Linked DNA regions of Homo sapiens. The protein of the gene in region 1 interacts with the protein of each later gene in a pairwise test. Each region holds a gene or a part of one and is shown on either strand. Other genes may lie near its edges. The genes, in order: NMI, NECAP2, SINHCAF and SH3GLB2.

Evidence for each region.
Region 2: the proteins of NMI (region 1) and NECAP2 interact in a two-hybrid assay, tested with the Homo sapiens proteins (one large-scale study listed by BioGRID and IntAct).
Region 3: the proteins of NMI (region 1) and SINHCAF interact in a two-hybrid assay, tested with the Homo sapiens proteins (one large-scale study listed by BioGRID and IntAct).
Region 4: the proteins of NMI (region 1) and SH3GLB2 interact in a two-hybrid assay, tested with the Homo sapiens proteins (one large-scale study listed by BioGRID).

The regions. Positions count from the first base shown.
Region 1 is NC_000002.12:151,269,513-151,273,830, forward strand, and holds the end of NMI (N-myc-interactor), read right to left. Parts: intron 2,221-4,318; coding exon 2,114-2,220; intron 1,364-2,113; coding exon 1,181-1,363; 3' UTR 958-1,180; downstream 1-957. UniProt on the Homo sapiens protein: Acts as a signaling pathway regulator involved in innate immune system response.
Region 2 is NC_000001.11:16,450,145-16,455,263, reverse strand, and holds part of NECAP2 (adaptin ear-binding coat-associated protein 2), read right to left. Parts: coding exon of another isoform or gene 5,044-5,119; exon of another isoform or gene 5,023-5,043; intron 3,427-5,022; coding exon 3,249-3,426; intron 1-3,248. UniProt on the Homo sapiens protein: Involved in endocytosis.
Region 3 is NC_000012.12:31,297,810-31,302,928, forward strand, and holds part of SINHCAF (SIN3-HDAC complex-associated factor), read right to left. Parts: intron 416-5,119; 5' UTR 396-415; coding exon 268-395; intron 1-267. UniProt on the Homo sapiens protein: Subunit of the Sin3 deacetylase complex (Sin3/HDAC), this subunit is important for the repression of genes encoding components of the TGF-beta signaling pathway.
Region 4 is NC_000009.12:129,017,678-129,022,796, forward strand, and holds part of SH3GLB2 (endophilin-B2), read right to left. Parts: intron 4,747-5,119; coding exon 4,605-4,746; intron 3,543-4,604; coding exon 3,414-3,542; intron 1-3,413.

The DNA.
Region 1 (4,318 bases):
TTTTTTTTTTGAGACAGAGTCTCACTGCAACACCCAGGCTGGAGTGCAATGGCACGATCTCAGCTCACTGCAACCTCCGCCTCCCAGGTTCAAGCAATTCTGCCTCAGCCTCCCAAGTAGCTGGGATTACAGGCGCCCACCACCATGCCCGGCTAATTTTTGTATTTTTAGTAGAGATAGGGTTTCACCATGTTGGCCAGGCTGGTTTCGAACTCCTGACCTCAAGTGATCCGCCCACCTCAGCCTCCCAAAGTGCTGGTGGCGTGAGCCACCGCAACCGGCCTAAAGGTTCTTTACCAAAAAGACTTTTACCTTCTCTGAATAGGAATCTTTAATTTTATCATTAAAGTTTCTGCAAGTTAAAAACAGTGAGATGCTAGTAAACTGGGTCTCTTTCCAACTAAACTTAAACCCTTGGAGGGCAGGTACTGTGTTTTTACCTCCAGTCATTCCCCAGCATCGAGCATGATAAGTGATGAGTCACTAACTTTGTATTTACCTCTCTCTCCATGCCAAGGTTTTCAAACTCTTATACCAATTGTTTCCATTGTAAGTGCAAAAGAAAGAAAAAGCTAGTCCTTTACGAGCTCTATTTGGAGAGGGGATGGCTTGGAAGGAATCAAGGGACACTTGGCACTTGGGTGAACAGAAATTCAAGAAAAAGATCACACTCAGCTCTGAGAACCTTTAGAGTTGTGGAGTGAAATGCTATGCACAGTGGTAAATGGTTGCTCTTGAAGTCCTTCGAATCTTCAGTTGAGTTTACAGGAATCACCAACTGCTGAATGTAACTGCCTTTGTTTTGGAAAATGTTAAGAGTCAAGTCTGCATATTGGTGGGCATGGGGCCACAACTGAATTGGCCCACAAGACCATAACAGGATGAGCCAGCACTGGCAGGGGACATCTGAATCACTTAAGGTTGATTTCAGCAGACATGGCACCAATACACATAATCTATAAACAAAACTTTTTATTACAGTGCACTTATTGTAGTTGAAAACATGCAGCACCATTTGAAACAAAGAAGATTCAGAAACATGGAAATAAGTTTTGTATCTAAACATAAATGGATGGTAAAAATTAAAGTTTTCATTTTTTAAGGAAAAGCATATTCATTTTTGTCAAACATTTACAGTAATCCGGGTTAAAAAGCTATAGTTTTCATGATTCTGTTAAGTCTATTCTTCAAAGTATGCTATGTGAGGTTGACCTAGAGAACACTTGACCACATCTACTTCTCCACCTCCATTCTTTGCCCGTTGAAAGTGAATGTTAATTAAATCCTCCACAATTTCTTCATCCATTTGAATGCCTTCCATTCCTGTCAGAAGCACTGTCCTCTTAGATGTTCCTGAAAATATCTAAGAAGGAAAAAATGATAAATAGAAAGATTTCTAAGAGCTTTGAATTACAAAACTTTACATTCATAATCTCTGCTTAATATTTTTTATTTTATCTTAGAAGAGACAAGAAATCTTAGGAAGATTTTCCAAGCAAGAGAATATCCAAGTCAGATCTGAGTTTTAGAAAGAGAACTCTGGTGGCATTATGGAACACAGAGGAAAGGAGGGATGCTCTGGGAACAGAAAGACCAGGTAAAGAGGTAGTCAGAAGTGGAGCTGGCAAGATTTAGTGACCAAATGAATGTTGGAGGTGAAGCAAACTGAAGAGTTAAGTATGAGTTCTAGCTTTTAAGTTGGTGGAGTAGGTAGATGGTGGTACCATTGGATACCTGAGAAGGAAGAGGAAAAGGGAGCAGGTCTGGGGTAAAGATAATGAGTTCAGAGAAAGTAGGCAGGAATTCTTTCTCATGCTCACTGACAGTAGACATATGAGAGAAATGCAACTATGTCTCCATGTACAAAAATAAAAATTGTGCCATTATCTGAGTAATTTCAGTTTTAAAAATTGTATAATAAAGTACAGTTTTGCATTAAAATGCTCCTTCAAAAGACAAACTCATTTTGCACCAAGCAAAAATGAAGTAAAGAAACCATTTTGCTATCCCTCATTGATAAGATGCATAAGTAACAGACTCACAACAACTTTATTTTTTGTGGGGTGGGTTTGGGCAGTGAGTTCTGAAAATGAGAGAACAGAGATGACTTTACCTGATACTTTTTCAAGTGTATTTCTGTGTATGGAGAAACAGTAACTCTATGGCAGGTTTGATTTATATAAAGAGGGTATTCTTTCTTTTTCAAAATCTTGTCAGCCACTAAAAGCAAAACAAAAACAATACTTGTCTTTTTTATATCATAAGCATTTTTAACCAAAGTTAAAACTTCCTTCAAAGAGAACACTATTACAGTAAATATTGAGTTAAAAGATTAATTTTTAAGAAATTCTAAAGCCCACTTTGAAGACTTCACAGTACATAATTTTGAAAACTACAAGACCAAACAATAATGAGGTTTAAAGCCTTCATTCCATCTTGAATTATTCACTGCAGTCAATCAATGCACAAAGGGTTGCAATGTCCTCAGACAGATCTACTTTGAGCTATAAAAAATACCATAGTCTTTTGCAGAAAGTAACCCACTCATCTAACAAGACTGGACTGTTTCCCAGTTTCTCAAAAGCTGTAAGTGAAAACTATGATTAGAATACTATATACATTTTTTTCAATATATTCAATAAACTGAAGTAATGATGTTAACCAAAGCAGGGAGGGGATTGAATGTCATCTAGAAAAACTGAAAGGAAATAAAAATTCATCAGTTTTCTACAACACAAAGAATAGTCTATTTTTTAGCAGTATTTTTTTCTCCTAGAGTGGTGAAAGGATGTGTGTCAAGACTGTAACATTTAACAAAAACAGTTCTTGGGAATATACAACCATGTTTTTTATGACTCTTCTCACTCATCTACCTTGGATCAGCAATATGGTACAATGATTAAGAGTGTAGGCCCTCATTGGCGAGAATATGGAGAAATTGAAACCCTGAGGCAATGCTGATAGAAATGTAAAATGGTACAGCCACTGTAGAAAACAGTATGACAGTTCCCCAAAATATTAAAATAGAACATGATATGATCCAGCAATTCAACTTCTGGGTATATACCCGAAACAACTGAAAGCAGGGACTCGGACAGATACTTGCTCGTTAATGCTCAGAGCAGTATTTTTCACAATAGGCAAAAGGTGGAAGCAACCCAAGCATCCACCAACAGATGAACAGATCAACAAAATGGATATATAAAATACACACACACACAGAGAATATTATTCAGCCTTTAAAAAGGATGAAATTCTGATACATACCACAACATGGATGGACCCTGATAACATTATGCTAACCAAAATAAGACAGACAGGAAAAGGACAAATATTGTATAATTCCACTTGAATGAGGTACCTAGAATAGGCAAATTCATAGAGACAGAAAGTAGAATGATGGTTACCAGGGGCTGGAAGAAGAGGTAATGGAGAATTATTGTTAAATGGGTACAGAGTTTCAGTTTGGGGTGATTAAAAAGTTCTAGAGATGGATAGTGGTGATGGTTGTACAACATTGTGAATGTACTTAGTACCCTTGAATTGTACATTTAAAAATTGTTAAAATGGTAAATTTTATGTTATATATATTTTATCACAGTTAAAAAAAAAAAAAAGAGTACAGGTCCTGAGTCAAATAGACCAGCTTCAGTCCTAGCTCTGCTACTTATGAGCTATGTGGCCTTGGATATGTTGCTTGACTTCTTAAAGCCTCAGTTTCTTTTTCTGTAAAATAAGCATAATTACAGTACCTACCCTGTAGATTATTGTGATGAGTCAGTAAGACACAGTTTATGAAGTATCTGGCATATTTATCTCCAGAATACCTTCACATCCTTCAGTAGTTACCTGCTGGATAACCTATAACCTGCAGAAGTATTTTTCCCATCTGGCTAGATGTAACCTCTAGGAGAACATCCCCAGATGGCCCAAGGACACAGGTTCCAAAGCTAGTATTATCTCTCACAGTAGAGTTATAAATTGCATTCTAGTTTATTTTATTTTATTTATTTTATTTCGGTTTTTTTGAGACCGAGTCTCACTCTGTCACCCAGGCTGGAGTGCAGTGATGCAATCTCAGCTCCCTGCAACCTCCACCCCCCAGGTTCAAGCAATTCTCCTGCCTCAGCCTCCCAAGTAGTTGGGACTATAGGCGTGAGCCAGCACATCCGCTAATTTTTGTATTTTTGGTGGAGAAGGGGTCTCGCGATGTTGGCCAGGCTGGTCTTGAACTCCTGGCCTCAAGTGATCCACCCGCCTCCGCCTCCCAAAGTGCTGGGATTATAGGCATGAGCCACTGCGCCTGGCCAGATTTTTT
Region 2 (5,119 bases), on another chromosome or scaffold:
TCCACCAAGGTAGGCGACGCCATGGGGCTGCAATGCCTGCTTTTGTGCTTTTCAGGCACCTCCCCCAGTGCTGCCAACTGCCCTTCTGAAGGGCCTGTGTTTGCCACCCTCCACCTTGGCACTAAGTTGCTATTTCTAATCTGCTCTGGGCCAGGAGAACAGATAAAACTAGGGCCCTCAATGGTTTAGAGTTTTACAGTTCACCAAGTGCTCAAGGCACATTATCTTCTGTGAACCTCACCCCAGCCCCTAGGGAAAGACAGATTGGGATGAGCCACGTGACTGTGCAGGTCATTTCAGTTTCCATTCTCTTACCTCTAAAATGCTGAAAATAACAGGAACTACTCCATAGGACTGGTGTGAAGATTAAATATCCACAGAATGCTTAGAACAGGTCCAGCATATAGTGGCAATAACGATATTAATAAAATGAGATCTAACATTCAGTGAGCACTTAGAATGTTCCAAAAATTGTTCTAAGTGCTATACATAAATCAGCTTATTTGATCCTCACAAGAAACTTATATTTTAAGTATCATTACTTCCCCTATCCTACAGATGAGAAAAATGAGGCATGGAGAAGTGATTTTCTAAAGATCACAAAACTGGGCTGGGCACAGTGGCTCAGCCTGTAATCCCAGCACTTTGGGTGGCTGAAGCAGGTGGATCACCTGAGGTCAGGAGTTCGAGACCAGCCTGGCCAACGTGGTGAAACCTCTGTCTCTACTAAAATTACAAAAATTAGCCAGGTATGGTGGTGCATGCCTGTAATGCCAGCTACTTGGGAGGCTGAGGCAGGAGAATTGCTTGAACCCAGGAAGCGGAGGTTGCAGTAAGCTGAGATCATGCCACTGCACTCCAGCCTGGGCAACAGAGTGAGACTCCTTCTTAAAAATAAATAAGTAGGCGAGGTGCGGTGGCTCATGCCTGTAATCCCAGCACTTTGGGAGGTCAAGGCGGGAGGATCACCTGAGGTCAGGAGTTCAAGACCAGCCTGACCAACATGGAGAAACCCCGTCTCCACTAAAAATACAAAATTAGCCACGTGAGGTGGCGCATGCCTGTAATCCCAGCTACTTGGGAGGCTGAGGCAGGAGAGTCGCTTGAACCCAGGAAGCAGAGGTTGTGGTAAGCCGAGATTGCGCCATCACACTCCAGCCTGGGCAACAAGAGCAAAAAACTCCATCTCAAAAATAAAAAATAAAAATAAATAAATAAATATCACAAAGCTAGTAAGCTGAAATTTGAACCCAACCATATTGTTCATATAGTAAGTGCTTCATAAATGTTGATATTCATGACTTATTATCTGACACCATTTTGTTTGTTGACATGCTAACTGCCTGTCTCAGACACCAGAAAACAAGCCCTTGAGAGCTGAAACTGGATGCTATACGTACCAGTGCCTAGAACTCTACCTGGCACACAGCAAGTGCACCATATTAAAATTAAAATGCTGTTAAAAATGCATCAGCAAGGCCAGGCACGGTGGCTCATGCCTGTAATCCCAGCACTTTGGGAGGCTGAGGCGGGCAGATCACGAGGTCAGGAGATCGAGACCATCCTGGCCAACACAGTGAAACCCTGTCTCTACTAAAAATACAAAACTTAGCTGGGCGTGGTGGTGCGTGCCTGTAATCTCAGCTACTCAGGAGGCTGAAGCAGAAGAATCACTTGAACCCAGGAGGTGGAGGTTGCGGTGAGCCGAGAACATGCCACTGCTCTCCAGCCTGGGTGACAGAGCAAGACTCCATCTTAAATAAATAAATATCCATCAGCAACCTTGGTTGCTTAGGAAGGCCTAAGGTAGTAGCTCTCAGACTTTAGTCAACACACAAACAAGAACAAACATAAGGGCCGGGTGCAGTAGCTCACGCCTGTAGTCCTAGCACTTTGGGAGGCTGAGGCGGGCGGATCACCTGAGGTTGGGAGTTCAAGACCAGCCTGACCAACATGGAGAAACCCTGTCTCTACTAAAATTACAAAATTAGCTGGGTGTGGAGGCACATGCCTGTAATCCCAGCTACTCAGGAGGCTGAGGCAGGAGAATCACTTGAACCCAGGAGGCAGAGGTTGCAGTGAGCCGAGATCACACCATTACACTGCAGCCTAGGCAACAAGAGCAAAAAAACTCCATTTCAAAAAAAAAAAAAAGACACAAGAATGCAGATTCTTGCCCCCATCCCCCAGCGATGCCAAAGCAAGTGGTCCTATGACCCCACTCTGAGAAATAGCACTTAAAGAACAGTTCCTGGTACCGGGCCGGGGCTCTCTGACTGCCCCTCCTGCCACTCTCCCCACAGGACTGAAGTCTGAAGCTTGACCTCCAGATAGGGCAGCCAATGTTGGGGAGGCTTAGGAATCAGTAAAGCAGGAAGGCTTCCTGCCTGCAAGCTGGGGAGAGCTGTGTGCAGAAGGCACGCTGGTGACAATCGCCCAGCCTGGGGAAGGCCAGGAGCATCAAGCTGGGCTGGGCGGGGCGGCGGGCGGGGGGGGCGCGCGGGGAGGTAGAGGAAAAGGGCTGGCACCCCAGCGTGGTCAGAAGCTGACACTAGACACTCGCTTCCGGAATCCCAGGGTCTCCTAAGGGCTCCTCAGCACAAACTGCCAGGGCAAATGCTCTCAGATTCCCACACCCGAGGTGCTCACTCCAAACGAAATCTCATTTCCCACCACTCACCTTGGCACACCTTATGCTGTACCCATCTCCCTAAATACACCAGGTGTCTAAAAGTCTGGGCCTCATTCGTGTTCTTCTCTCTGCCTGGAATGCCAACCACTCCCACTCTATCTCCTTCCTTCAAGGTCCAGATCAATGTCACCTCTTTCATGAAACCTCTCCAGATCACAGCAGCTGATGGTGGGTCTAGGCCCTACACATTTGGTCTCTGTGCTGTGACTCATCTCTCTCACTACACGTGAGCAGAGACTGTGTCTCCATTACCCACTCACTCAATACCCACTGAGCAGACACTGGGAACCAGGAACCGACATGTTGATGATTTCACAGTAACTAACAAGTCGCAGCCCTGGCCTCTCAGGGGAGGGCAGACGCCCTAAAGGCCAAGTAGGAGGAGCCCCTTACCCAGCGTGTGCAGAATGAGCTTTGGGTGCCCGCCTTCTTTGACACGGACAGGTACTACATGACCAATCCATGTGTGTAACGGGGGGGAAACCATGGGGCCTGGCTGCCAGGGAGAAGAGGAGCCGGCAGGTACTGATGCAGCAGTCACCCACTGAGCACTAACCTGAACTGGGAGCAACTGCTGGCTGGACGAGGGATCCCCCCACAGCCAACTGCTCCCCAGGGGGAGGGATCAGGGTGGAGGTTTTCCCCCCTGGGGGAGGGGGAAGCAGGCTCAGCCCTCCTGTGCTGGCAGGCCGGACTCGGGGATTCCCAGCTGCTCCTTCCTTCTTCTTCATGTTCTAAAGAGGGAAGAGGAATGCAAATCAGCCCGTTCTGCTGGAGTCCCAATGCTACCAGAAAACCCCACAAGGAGGGCCAAGGTGACCCCAGACCCCCAACATCTGTGTAACCAAAAGATGGTCCTACCTAGCACCTCCATTGCTATGAGCTATACTTAGTGCATCATCATTCTGAATCTCTCACAAATAAGGTCCATTTTAAAACCCAGCACCCCCACTTCATTCATCAGGGAAATGCAGATCAAAGCTATAATGATATACCATTACACGCTCACCAGAATGGCTAAAATGTAGATTATCAAGTATTGACTACGATATGAAGTAACCATTCACGCGCTGCTGGCTTAAGTGTAAACTGGTAAAACTACTTTGAAAAATTATTTGAAAGGATTATAAAGCTCAACATAGGAACTTAAACTTATGACTCCGCAGTTCCACTCCTAGATATAAACCAACAGAAATCATACATATATGCACCAAAAACATGAACTCAAACATCTACAGCAGCATTATTTGTAATCGCCCCAAACTGGAAACTACCCAAATGTCCATCATCAGTAAAACATAAATAAATCGGGTGAATTCTCACAATGGTACATGCCACAACAATGAGAATGAACAAACTACACGCAACACCATGGATGACTCTCACAAAAATTACATTGAGTAAAAGAAAGAAATCATTCCAAATCAAGATTAGGTGTATGATTCAATTCATGAAAGTTAAGAACAAACAAAATCTAGGGTATGTGAAGTCAGGATGGGGTTACTCAGGGCAGTTACTGGGAGGGGCCAGGAGAGGTGTTTCCAGAGTGCTGACAATCTTTTGCATCTTGAGCAAGGTGCAAGTTTATAAATTGGGTGTTTTGTTTTGTTTTGTTTTTTGAGCCAGAGTTTCGCTCTTGTTGTCCAGGCTGGAGTGCAATGAATGGCTCGATCTCAGCTCACTGCAACCTCCACCTCCCAGGTTCAAGCCAATTCTCCTGCCTCAGCCCCCGGAGTAGCTGGGATTACAGCCATGGACCACCATGCCCGGCTAATTTTGTATTTTTAGTAGAGACAGGGTTTGTCCATGTTGGTCAGGCTGGTCTCGGACTCCCGACCTCAGGTGATCCGCCCACCTCAGCCTCCCAAAGTGCTGGGATTACAGGCGTGAGCCACCACTCCCAGCCTATAGATTAGATTTTTTAAATTTCACAGAGTTCTGCATTTATGATTTGTACACTTTTTTACATGCACATTATACTTCAAGAAAATGCTTTAAAAAAAAAACTGAGCACCAAGCATGAGCCAGAAAGCAGCACAAGTTACACAGATGAAGATAATGTGTTCCCTACTTGTAAGGAAAGCAGCAGCTTAATAAAATCGTAAGTCCAGCCCTGAAGTCAAAAGACCTCAAAGACCTCAGTGTGAGCACAGCTGTGCCAGTTATTTCTAGCTCTGTGACCCTGGGCAAGTCCCCAACCCTCCCTAAGCCTCCATTTCCTCATCTCATGGAGGAAAGGGAGAGGATGTTTAATTCACATGAGAAATGCCTAAAAAAAAAAAACAACAAAACAAAACAAAAAACAAAACAAAACAAAAAAAAACCACTACCTGGCCCTCAGCTGATGCTCATTAAATGTTAGTTTCCTCCAAGCGAGAGAAAGAATCACATCCCAACCAGTCCACTGGATTGGACTTGCATTTCTCT
Region 3 (5,119 bases), on another chromosome or scaffold:
CACAAAAGGAAGTCAACAACAAAAGGGTTTGTCTAGCTACAACTTTAAGGGGCTTCACGATTAATGTGGTAGCTCCTCATAATCTGGAAAAAAGTAGGCTGTCAGCATTGTTTGATTCATTTAAAAAGCAGGAGACTTACACAGCCTAAATTAGAATAAGTGATTTTTATTATTAGCACATTGTTCCAATCACCTTGCTTACAAATATTTCTGTATGCTGTGGTATTTTTTCACTCTAAGAATAGTACAAACATCAGGTGATCTTACCCAAAACAGCTCTGGAAGTCCTTTTCATAGCGTTTACTGTCAGTGAATCGAGAACTGGAGGACTTAGCTCTGCAAATACAGCAGCCCTCTATACTTCGGTACATCTTTGGCTTGTGAAAACCAAACATCTTTTCTTCTGGGCAATAGTCTGTAAAGCCAAGGGAATTGACATATCTTTGTTGAGGGCTGTAACAAGGAACCATTAAAGAGTTCTCTCTGCTCCACCCCACCCCCAAGCAACTTGGTGTTATATGACCAAGACAGGCAGGCAGCTCAAGGGAAGACCTCCTGGATCGACCTCCATTCTTGGCACTATCAAGGCAAGCGTATAAAACACAAAGAAAAGCCTAGTTATTTAAGGAGGACTCTACTACCTCCTAACTCGCCTAACAAACATGCAATCTAAAAATGGGGAAGAGAAGCATTTTTTAAAATCAGGTTTTGAAGTAAGAAATGCCACAAACAATCCTGTAAAATAATGAAGCTGTACACAATTAAGGATGCATCCTTAAATTTAAGACACACCTTTTTATTTTGCACATTTGCATTAACGTGATTCCCCTCTGGGGAAGTTTTGAGCATTTACCATGAATACTATTTGATACTAAGCACACAACTAGCTCACTATGCATCAGCCCATACTACTTTGCCTAATGGGAATTCAGAGGGGATTTCTTCTGTGATAAATGGGAAGTTCTAAGCAGTCAAGTTTGCCCCTGAATTGAAACTGCTGAAGGGAAGATGTAAAATTCACAAAAATCCAAGGTTAGAATTTAATAATAATAATTCCTTATTATCATTAAGACAAAAAAAGAACGAGCTCATGTTGTCTGACCGCTGATCTGCCCCTTAGTTGTTAGAGGTTTGTGGACCTCTTCTACAAGGCTTTGTGCCTGAGAGTAGTAACAGTGGGAGGCAAATGTCCCAGAGACGTAGAGTGAAATAAATTGCAGTCCTCCTGTTAAAAAAAAAAAAAATCTCAACGTCAAGGAAGGAATGAAAACAGCTCTGGGGCTGGATGCAAATATGTAGCTGGCAGTAAATCTGTACCTTAGGAAAAGTAATTTGGAATATCCAAATCAAGGGCCAGCTCACCAAAACAACCGGACTAAGAGAGGTGATGAAAAGGCAATGAATATAGAAACTAAACTCCAATGGACAAGTCAGAGGATGTGTGTATGTATGAGGGTCTAACTATAAATTATCACAAAATTATCACATAAAGCAACAATAAAAGAAAAAAATTTTTTTTTTTTTGGAGACAGAGTCTCACTCTTTCACCCAGGCTGGAGTGCGGTGGCGCGATCTAGGCTCACTGCAAGCTCTGCCTCCCAGGTTCAAGTGATTCTCCTGCCTCAGCCTCCCTAGTAGCTGGGACTACAGGTGCCCGCCACCACACCCGGCTAACTTTTTGTATTTTTAGTAGAGACAGGGTTTCAGCATGTTAGCCAGGATGGTCTCGATCTCCTGACCTTGTGATCCACCCGTCTCGGCCTCCCAAAGTGCTGGGATTACAGGCGTGAGCCACCGTGCCCGGCCAAGAAAATTATTAATATCACTTTCGTGTCCATAGTTTTAGGAGTTATTACCACAGAACACTATCTTTTTAAAGTTGTTTTAGAAATAAACTTAGATGAGTAAACCTAAAGCTTCAGTACAGTCATGTGTTGCTTAACAATGGGGACACATTCTGAGAAATGCATCATTGGGCATCCTTGTGCAGACATCAGTGTCCTCACATAAACCAAGATGGCAATAGCCTACAACACCCCTAGGCTATATGGGATAGCCTACTGTTCCAAGGCAACAAACTTATACAGCGTGTGACGGTACTGAATGCCGTGGGCAACTGTAATACAATGGTAAGAATCTGTGCATCTAAATATAGAAAAGGTACAAAAAAATATGGTATCATAATCTTTTGGGACCACCATCATATATGCAGTCTGTGGTTGACCGAAACGTCCTTGTGTGACATATGGCTGTATTTGTCTTTGGATTATCTCGTCTGATCCCATTCCATTCCAATTCTGGTTAGTATAATATAGCAAGTATTAATGAAAATGATTCAGAACCAAATATCCAGGCTTTTTATGTGTATTTTTTTGGTATTGAGGGGTTTTGAAATATAGACAGAGGTTTTACAACTTTTAAAAGAAAATTTTTTTAAAACTTTTATTAGCAAATAATTAGCTAAAAACTGAAGCTTCCCTTTCAAACAGGCTATTGTTAATAAACTGTTCCTCTGCCATGTTTTTGTTGGTGAGAGAGGCAGGCAAAAGAGTGGGATGGGGGCAAGGCAGAAGGCCTTCATGCATTTCAATAATTAAGTCTAAACAGTTACCTCTAAGAACTGTTTTAAAAAAAACATTTTTAGTTGATAATAATTTTAGTTAAATGCTTGGGAATTTGATGTCTTTGAGAGGAAGAAAAATGAGGAAGTACCCTCTACACAGTCATAAGAAAAGATCTAGAGAGGCCTGCTCAAATGAGGCAGATTTTTTTTTCTCAATCCAACAACAAACCCATATGATAACTGAAAAGAAAATCCTGAAGAAAATGGTCGCATGTTGCTTTGGAAAAAACAATGTCAAATGACAGAAGATTGCAGAAACAAGAAAGCAGAGTAGCAGTTATTGCTTTAATTTGTGTATTCCTGTTTTAAGGCAAAATGTTAATACGGCCCTCGTCCTCACACCACCCTGCGCTCTTCTCCAAACTCGCCCAACAGCTTGCATTACCATCAAGAAGGTCAGAGAACAGTTCCTCTAATACTCTCCAACTTCATCCATAACTCTTGGAAACTTCAGCCTCCCTTCTCAGCAAGGACAAAAGAAGCAGAGCAAAAAAGGCCAGTTCATTCCATTAATACACAGACCAAATCCTATTACGACAGACAGATTCCTATCTCTACCCTCACCATCTCTTTCCCTTCCCCCAAATAAACAAGTCCTCAAAGCTATCAGCATTCAGCTCATCTCTAGGATGTGAACTACCTTCACTGAGGTTGGATTTGACCAAGACGCCATAGTTTGTGCCAGTTACCACACTGCTAAGCTGTTAAGGATGTTAGGGTTATAGGTGAATATTGAGGCTTTCTTTTTAATCAGCAGCCATTGTGAATTAAGTGTTCCTCTTCAATGATTTTTTTCTGCTGGTGGGGACCTCCACAAAACTTACCCAGCACCCCTAGCAAGACATTCCAGTCATAAGCTGAGGAATATTCTTCTTAGACATAGGGGAGAATAGGCTGATGTCTTAGGATTCATAATCCATTTTCATATAGTTCCGTGACCTTACTTTTGTCCTGACAAAATTATTCTGCCTGAACATCTGAGAGGGATCTAAATCCTAGGGCTTACCCTCTCCTAGGCAATGCTCAGTGAGAAATGCAATGAGGTGGCAGACACCTGTCCTTATGCAACACACAAGGAGCATGTGAACCTTTTAATGGATGACAACTTAATAAACCTATTAAGCCTTTTCTGAGCTTATCCTCACACTTAAGAGGCACCTGGGAATCTGCAGCAAATACACAGGGGTTTCATTTCGGGCTTTGTTTACAACAACCAAGTTAAGCAGTGGTTGGTGTTTAACCATTTCAAGGTTTGGGAAGCCCTGAGATTAACTGAAATTATTTCCAAAAATCTACAAACCCATGAAATGTTTAAAAAAACAACAAAAAAAAAACACTACTTAATCCCTAGAGCAAAACCAAGGACATAAAATGGTCTCTGAAACCAAGTTACTTTATATATTTAACAAAGTACTGGGTGGGCGTGGCATAACTTGATTTTAAACTGGAGATTTGTTTTTTCAAGCAATCTGGTGGTTCTTTAGAATACTGCTTTCCTAGTACCAAATTTGTGCAATATTAAATGATTCCTCCAGTACAATCTATCTTATTTGTTCAAATGACACCATCAGCTATGAAACTATCTGTGAATTTTGCCTCTATTCTCATAGGCATCATATCACTCAGCACTATGTTTTAAAGGAAGAAAGGTAATACTATCTGCTTTCTAATTGATTAATAGTTACAGCTGAGAACAGACCCCATACAATCTCATCCTTAACCATGTGTTTGGGGAAAGAAGAGGAAAATTAAGCTGTGAGATAAAGCCAAAAATCAAGAAAAACTTAAAATACTGATTATGAACTGTCATTCGTCTTCTAAAATTAAATAGTGGTATGGTTGCAAAATTCTGAGTATACTAAAAGCCACTGAATTGTACACATTACAAGAGTGAATCTTATGGTATATAAATGAGTGAATTTTATGGTACGTGAAAGATCTCAGTAAGCCTGTTTTTGAGATATTTAAAAATAAAAATAACTGAGTTAGGAATTCACTTGTCTTTATCATCTTTGTAAACTCATCATCTCGGATGCCAGTCTCATACTAGCTGTGTCAACCCAAATTGAGAGACCAAGATGGGAATCTCAATCAAACAAAGTTTATCAGGCCGAGCTTGAGGATGTGCGCCCAGGAAGCACAGGTTCCAACAGGTTATAACCTGTGTTTCAAAGCAGATTACACGAGGCACGGTATTCATACATTTTTTTAAACAGGGGGATACCTGCAGTACAGTGAAGCAACAATTACACTCTTGTCGATTTGACTGGTATTCAGTGATGTTACACATAAGGTAAAGTAAGTATGTGGCTGAGCGGGTAGGAGAGAAGGATTAATAATTGTGTAGGCATCTCAGGGTCTGGCGGAAGGATGATTGATTCCATCCTGCCTTTGTTCTATATCTGATACACAAGTTTACAACCAGTACCTGTTAGTAAAATATTTAACAAACTCCAGTTACAAATGCACAAAGGGTCAGCCTTAGTTAATAGGCCA
Region 4 (5,119 bases), on another chromosome or scaffold:
ATCACGAGGTCAGGAGATCGACTATCCTGGCTAACACGGTGAAATCCCGTCTCCACTGAAAAAAAAAAAAATTAGCCTGGCATGGTGGCAGGTGCCTGTAGTCCCAGCTACTTGGGAGGCTGAGGCAGGAGAATGGCATGAACACGAGAGGCGGAGGTTGCAGTGAGCCGAGATCGTGCCACTGCACTCCAGCCTGGGCGACAGAGCGAGATTCCGTCTCAAACAAAAAAAAAAAAAAAAAAAATTAGCTGGGTGTGATTATAGGTGCGTGATGGTGCGTGCCTGTAATCTCAGCTACTCAGAAGGCTGAGAGGCTGAGGTGGAGGATCCCTTGAACCTGGGAAGTGGAGCTTGCAGTGAGCCCAGATGGCACCATTGCACTCCAGCCTGGGCGACAGAGCGAGACTCCATCTCAAAATAATAATAATACTAACATAGCACGACATGTTCATACATTCTCTGATCGCAGTGGAATTAAGTTAAAAGCAACAATAGAAGAAAACCCAGAAAATCCACAAATATCTGAAAATGAAACAACACACTACTGACAGGAATAAAAAAATCATACAGCTACTTTGGAAAACAGTTTGGCAACTTCTTAAAAAGTTAAATTAAATTGGCTGGGCGCAGTGGCTCACGCCTGTAATCCCAGCACTTTGGGAGGCCAAGGCGGGCGGATCACAAGGTCAGGAGTTCAAGACCAGCCTGGCCAACATGGTGAGACCCCGTCTCTACTAAAAACACAAAAAATTAGCTGGGCATGGTGGCGGGTGCCTGTAATCCCAGCGACTTGGAAGGCTGAGGCAAGAGAATTGCTTGAACCCAGGAGGCGGAGGTTGCAGTGAGCCAAGATTGCGCCACTGCACTCCAGCCTAGGTGACAGAGAGAGACTCCGTCTCAAAAAAAAAAAAAAGAGTTAAGTTAAATTTACCTGAGGCCAGGCACAGTGGCTATGCCTGTAATCCCAGCACTTTGGGAGGCCGAGGCGGGTGGATCACGAGGTCAGGAGTTCAAGACCAGCCTGGCCAAGATGGTGAAACCTCATCTCTACTAAAAATACAAAAAATTAGCCGAGCGTGGTGGCAGGCGCCTGTAGTCCAGCTACTCGGGAGGCTGAGGCAGGAGAATGGCATGAACCCGGGAGGAGGAGCTTGCAGTGAGTCGAGATTGTGCCACTGCACTCCAGCCTGGGTGACAGAGTGAGACTCCATCTCAAAAAAAAAAAAAAAATTATGTTAGGTAAAAGCAGCTAAATGCAAGAAACAACATGTCATATGATTCCATTTATATAAAATGTTCAGAAAAAATGAACTTATAGGGACCGAAAACACGTTAGTGGTTGGCTGGCTGGAGGTGAAAATGGGGCTTGACAATAGACATGAAGGACTTTTGGGGTGTGATGGAAATGTTCTTTAAATTAGACTGTGGGCCGGGCACGGTGGCACACTCCTGTAATCCCAGCACTTTGGGAGGCCAAGGTGGGAGGTCACTTCAGCTTAGGAGTTTGAGATCAGCCTGGGCAACATAGCGAGATCCCCATCTCTACAGAAAAATATAAAAATTAGAAGGGCATGGTGGTGGACACCTGTAATCCCAGCTAATCAGGAGGCTGAGGTGGAAGGATGCCTTCAGCCCAAAAGGCAGAGGTTGCAGTGAGCTGAGATTGCACCACTGCAATCCAGCCTGGGGGACAGAGCCAGACCCTGTCTCAAAAAAGGTAACAGAAAATAAAAAATAAATAAGTTTGGCTGGGCGCAGTTGCTCACGCCTGTTATCCCAGCACTTTGGGAGGCTGAGGCGGGTGGATCACCGGAGGTCAGGAGATCGAGACCTGCCTGGATAACATGGTGAAACCCGGTCTCTGCTAAAAATACAAAAATTAGCTGGGAGTGGTGGTGGGCGTGTGCAATCCTAGCTCCTTGGGTAGCTGAGGGAGGACCCGGGATGCTTGAACCCAGGAGGCAGAGGTTGCAGTGAGCTGAGATTGCGCCACCGCACTCCAGCCTGGGTGACAGAGTGAGACTCTGCCTCAAAAAAAAAAAAAAAAAAAAAGTTAGATTGTGGAGATGTTTGTACAACTCTGTAAATTTACTAAAAATCATTGAATTATACACTTAAACACATAATATATAGCTTATACTTGGATAAAATTTTAAAATGAAAAAAAAAAGATGGATATGGTTCTATAAATGCTTCAGTGAAAAGATACCTGTAATATGATGTCAAGTTAAAAAGTCAGGTTCCAGCCGGGTGCGGTGGCTCATGCCCGTAATCCCAGCACTTTGGGAGGCCATGGCGGGCAGATCACTTGAGGTCAGGAGTTGGAAACCAGCCTGGCCAACATGGTAAAACACCGTCTCTACTAAAAATACAAAAAAGTTAGCCAGGTGTGCTGGTGGGCACATGGAATCCCAGCTACTTGGGAGGCTGAGGCAGGAGAATTGCTTGAACCCAGGAGGCGGAGGTTGCAGTGAGCTGAGATTGCGCCACTGCACTCCAGCCCGGACAACAGAGCAAAACTCCATCTCCAAAAAAAAAAAAAAAAAAAAAAAAAAGTCAGGTTCCCAGATAGCACACAATATGATTCCATTAAAAAATACACACAAATAGGCCAGGTGCGGTGGCTCACACCTGTAATCCCAGCACTTTGGGAGGCTGAGGCAGGCGGATCACTTGAGGTCAGGAGTTTGAGAACAGCCTGGTCAACATGGTGAAACCCTGCCTCTACTAAAAACACAAAAATTAGCTGGGTGTGGTGGCGGGCTCCTGTAGTCCCAGCTACTCGGGAGGCTGAGGCAGGAGAATCACTTGAACCTGGGAGGCAGGGGCGTTGCAGTGAGCTGAGATCGCACCACCGCACTCCAGCCTGGGTGATGGAGTGAAACTGTGTCTCAAAAAAAAAAAAATAGGCCGGGCGCGGTGGCTCACGCCTGTAATCCCAGCAGTTTTCGAGGCATAGGCGGGCAGATCACGAGGTCAGGAGATCGAGACCATCCTGGCTAACATGGTGAAACCTCGTCTCTACTAAAAAATACAAAAAAAATTAGCCAGGCGTGGTCACGGGCGCCTGTAGTCCCAGCTACTTGGGAGGCTGAGGCAGGAGAACGGCGGGAACCCAGGAGGTGGAGCTTGCAGTGAGCCGAGATCACGCCACTGCACTCTAGCCTGGGCGACAGAGCGAGACTCCATCTCAAAAAAAAACAAAAACAAAACACACACACACACACAAACCAAAACTGGTTAAGAGAAGATTCCATTTTTTACTCTTTTTTTCTGCGTAGAGTTTTTACATTTAGAATGAATTCAGGTATTATTTGTATAATTATTTTTTTAAGTAAAAAAAAGGAAGGGAGGGAGGGAGAATCAGAGCTAAAGACCATGACCCCTAGTCCCTGGCTGTGAGGCCTGCTCACCATAGGGGGTGGTCGGCCCCAGCTCACTGGCCGCGTCTGCCATGTACTGAGCCAGCAGCTCCCCGTTGGTGACCCTTGAGGGGACCTTCCTGTCCAGCTTCTCATACAGGAACTCCTCCACTCGGGCACCTGTGGGGAGACAGCAGCCAAAGCCACAGGGCTCCTTAGTTCAAGCCCAAAAATGAAACAGAAACAGACCCAGACCCGGCCCTGCCCACAGGTGCACCTGGCCTGCTGACTTCCAGAATACGCTCTTGCTCATGCCCAACCCTGAGACTGTTGTGATTGACCCAGCACTATACAGAGGAGGAAGCCAGGGCCCGTCCACTTCTCCCTTATTAATATGATTACAGACCATAATACATGCTTGCACAATTCTCTGCTCCTGGCACCCAAAAGTTATCTGGCCCCTCAATGAGCCACAGAGCAGATTTACAGGCAGACACACAGCACGACCCGGAGCCACCCTCCTTTCCCCGGAAGTCCTGCAGGTCGCTTCTGCTTGACCTTGGGGGCCTGCCTGGGTGTGCTCCGGGCAGTCCCTTCATCTCTGGGCCTTGCTGACCTCTTGAAAGTGACCAGGTTGGGACGGACACGGTGGCTCCTGCCTATAATCCCAGCACTTTGGGAGGCCAAGGCGGGTGGATCATTTGAGGTCAGGAGTTCAAGACCAGCCTGGCCAACATGGTGAAACCCCTTCTCTACTAAAAATACAAAAATTAGCTGGGCGTGGTGGCATGTGCCTGTAGTCCCAGCTATTCAGGAGGCTGAGGCAGGAGAATCGCTTGAACCCAGGAGGCAAGGGTTGCAGTGAGCCAAGATTGCACCATTGCACTCCAGAATGGGTGACAGAGCAAGACTCCACCTCAAAAAAAAAAAAAAAAAAACCAACAGAGTGACCAACCAGGTGTGTGTTTTGCCTGCCTCTTCTCCCACGTGTGTTTTAGCTTCCAGGCATTTTAACTCTTCTGTGCAAAACTCAGTGTTTCCACTGCCCTGGAGTGTCTGGCAGCCCAACACAGAGTCCCCCATTTTCTTTTAACTGTCCCTCTTCAACAGCCTTGAGCCCAAGAGTCTAGCTGAAACCCCGGCTGCAGCCCCGCCCCACCTATGCCACAACAGGGCCAGGCCTCCTACTGTATCCCTGCCCCACGACTACATCCCTCCCCGGGCCCACGAACACGCACTCACTGGGGTTGGGCTGCAGCAGCACCTCTGTCTGCCTCAAGATCTTCTCTGTCCAGTTCTTGGTGCTGTCTGCCCGGGCCAGAAGGTTTTCAAAGTGGGCATCAAGCTCAGTCTTCTCAGCCTGGCCAAATTTCTCCTCCGTGAACTACGCAGAGGGGAAGGCCAAGGGGTGGGGAGGGGGAGAGCTCAGAAGGAGGTGGGGGAGTGGTGGGGAAAGGGAGGACTGCCCCTCCCCACCAGCAGGAACCCAGGCAGGCCCCAGGGTCAAGGAACCAGCCCTGAGTGTGATACTGTGTGACCTGGCAGGGCCTCACTGTTTTCCCCTTTGTGAAATGAGGTGGCTGGGCCAGAGTGTGGGAATCACAGCTTCTTTTGGAAATCCAATGAAAGCTACACTCTCTCCCCACAAAAATGCACCTTCATATACAATCTGGCACACAGCTTAGTGCGGTGAGGAACCCTGGGGAGGCCAGCCCTAGGGTCCTTTGAGTCTGACTCTGAAGGAGAGGACTTGGTAG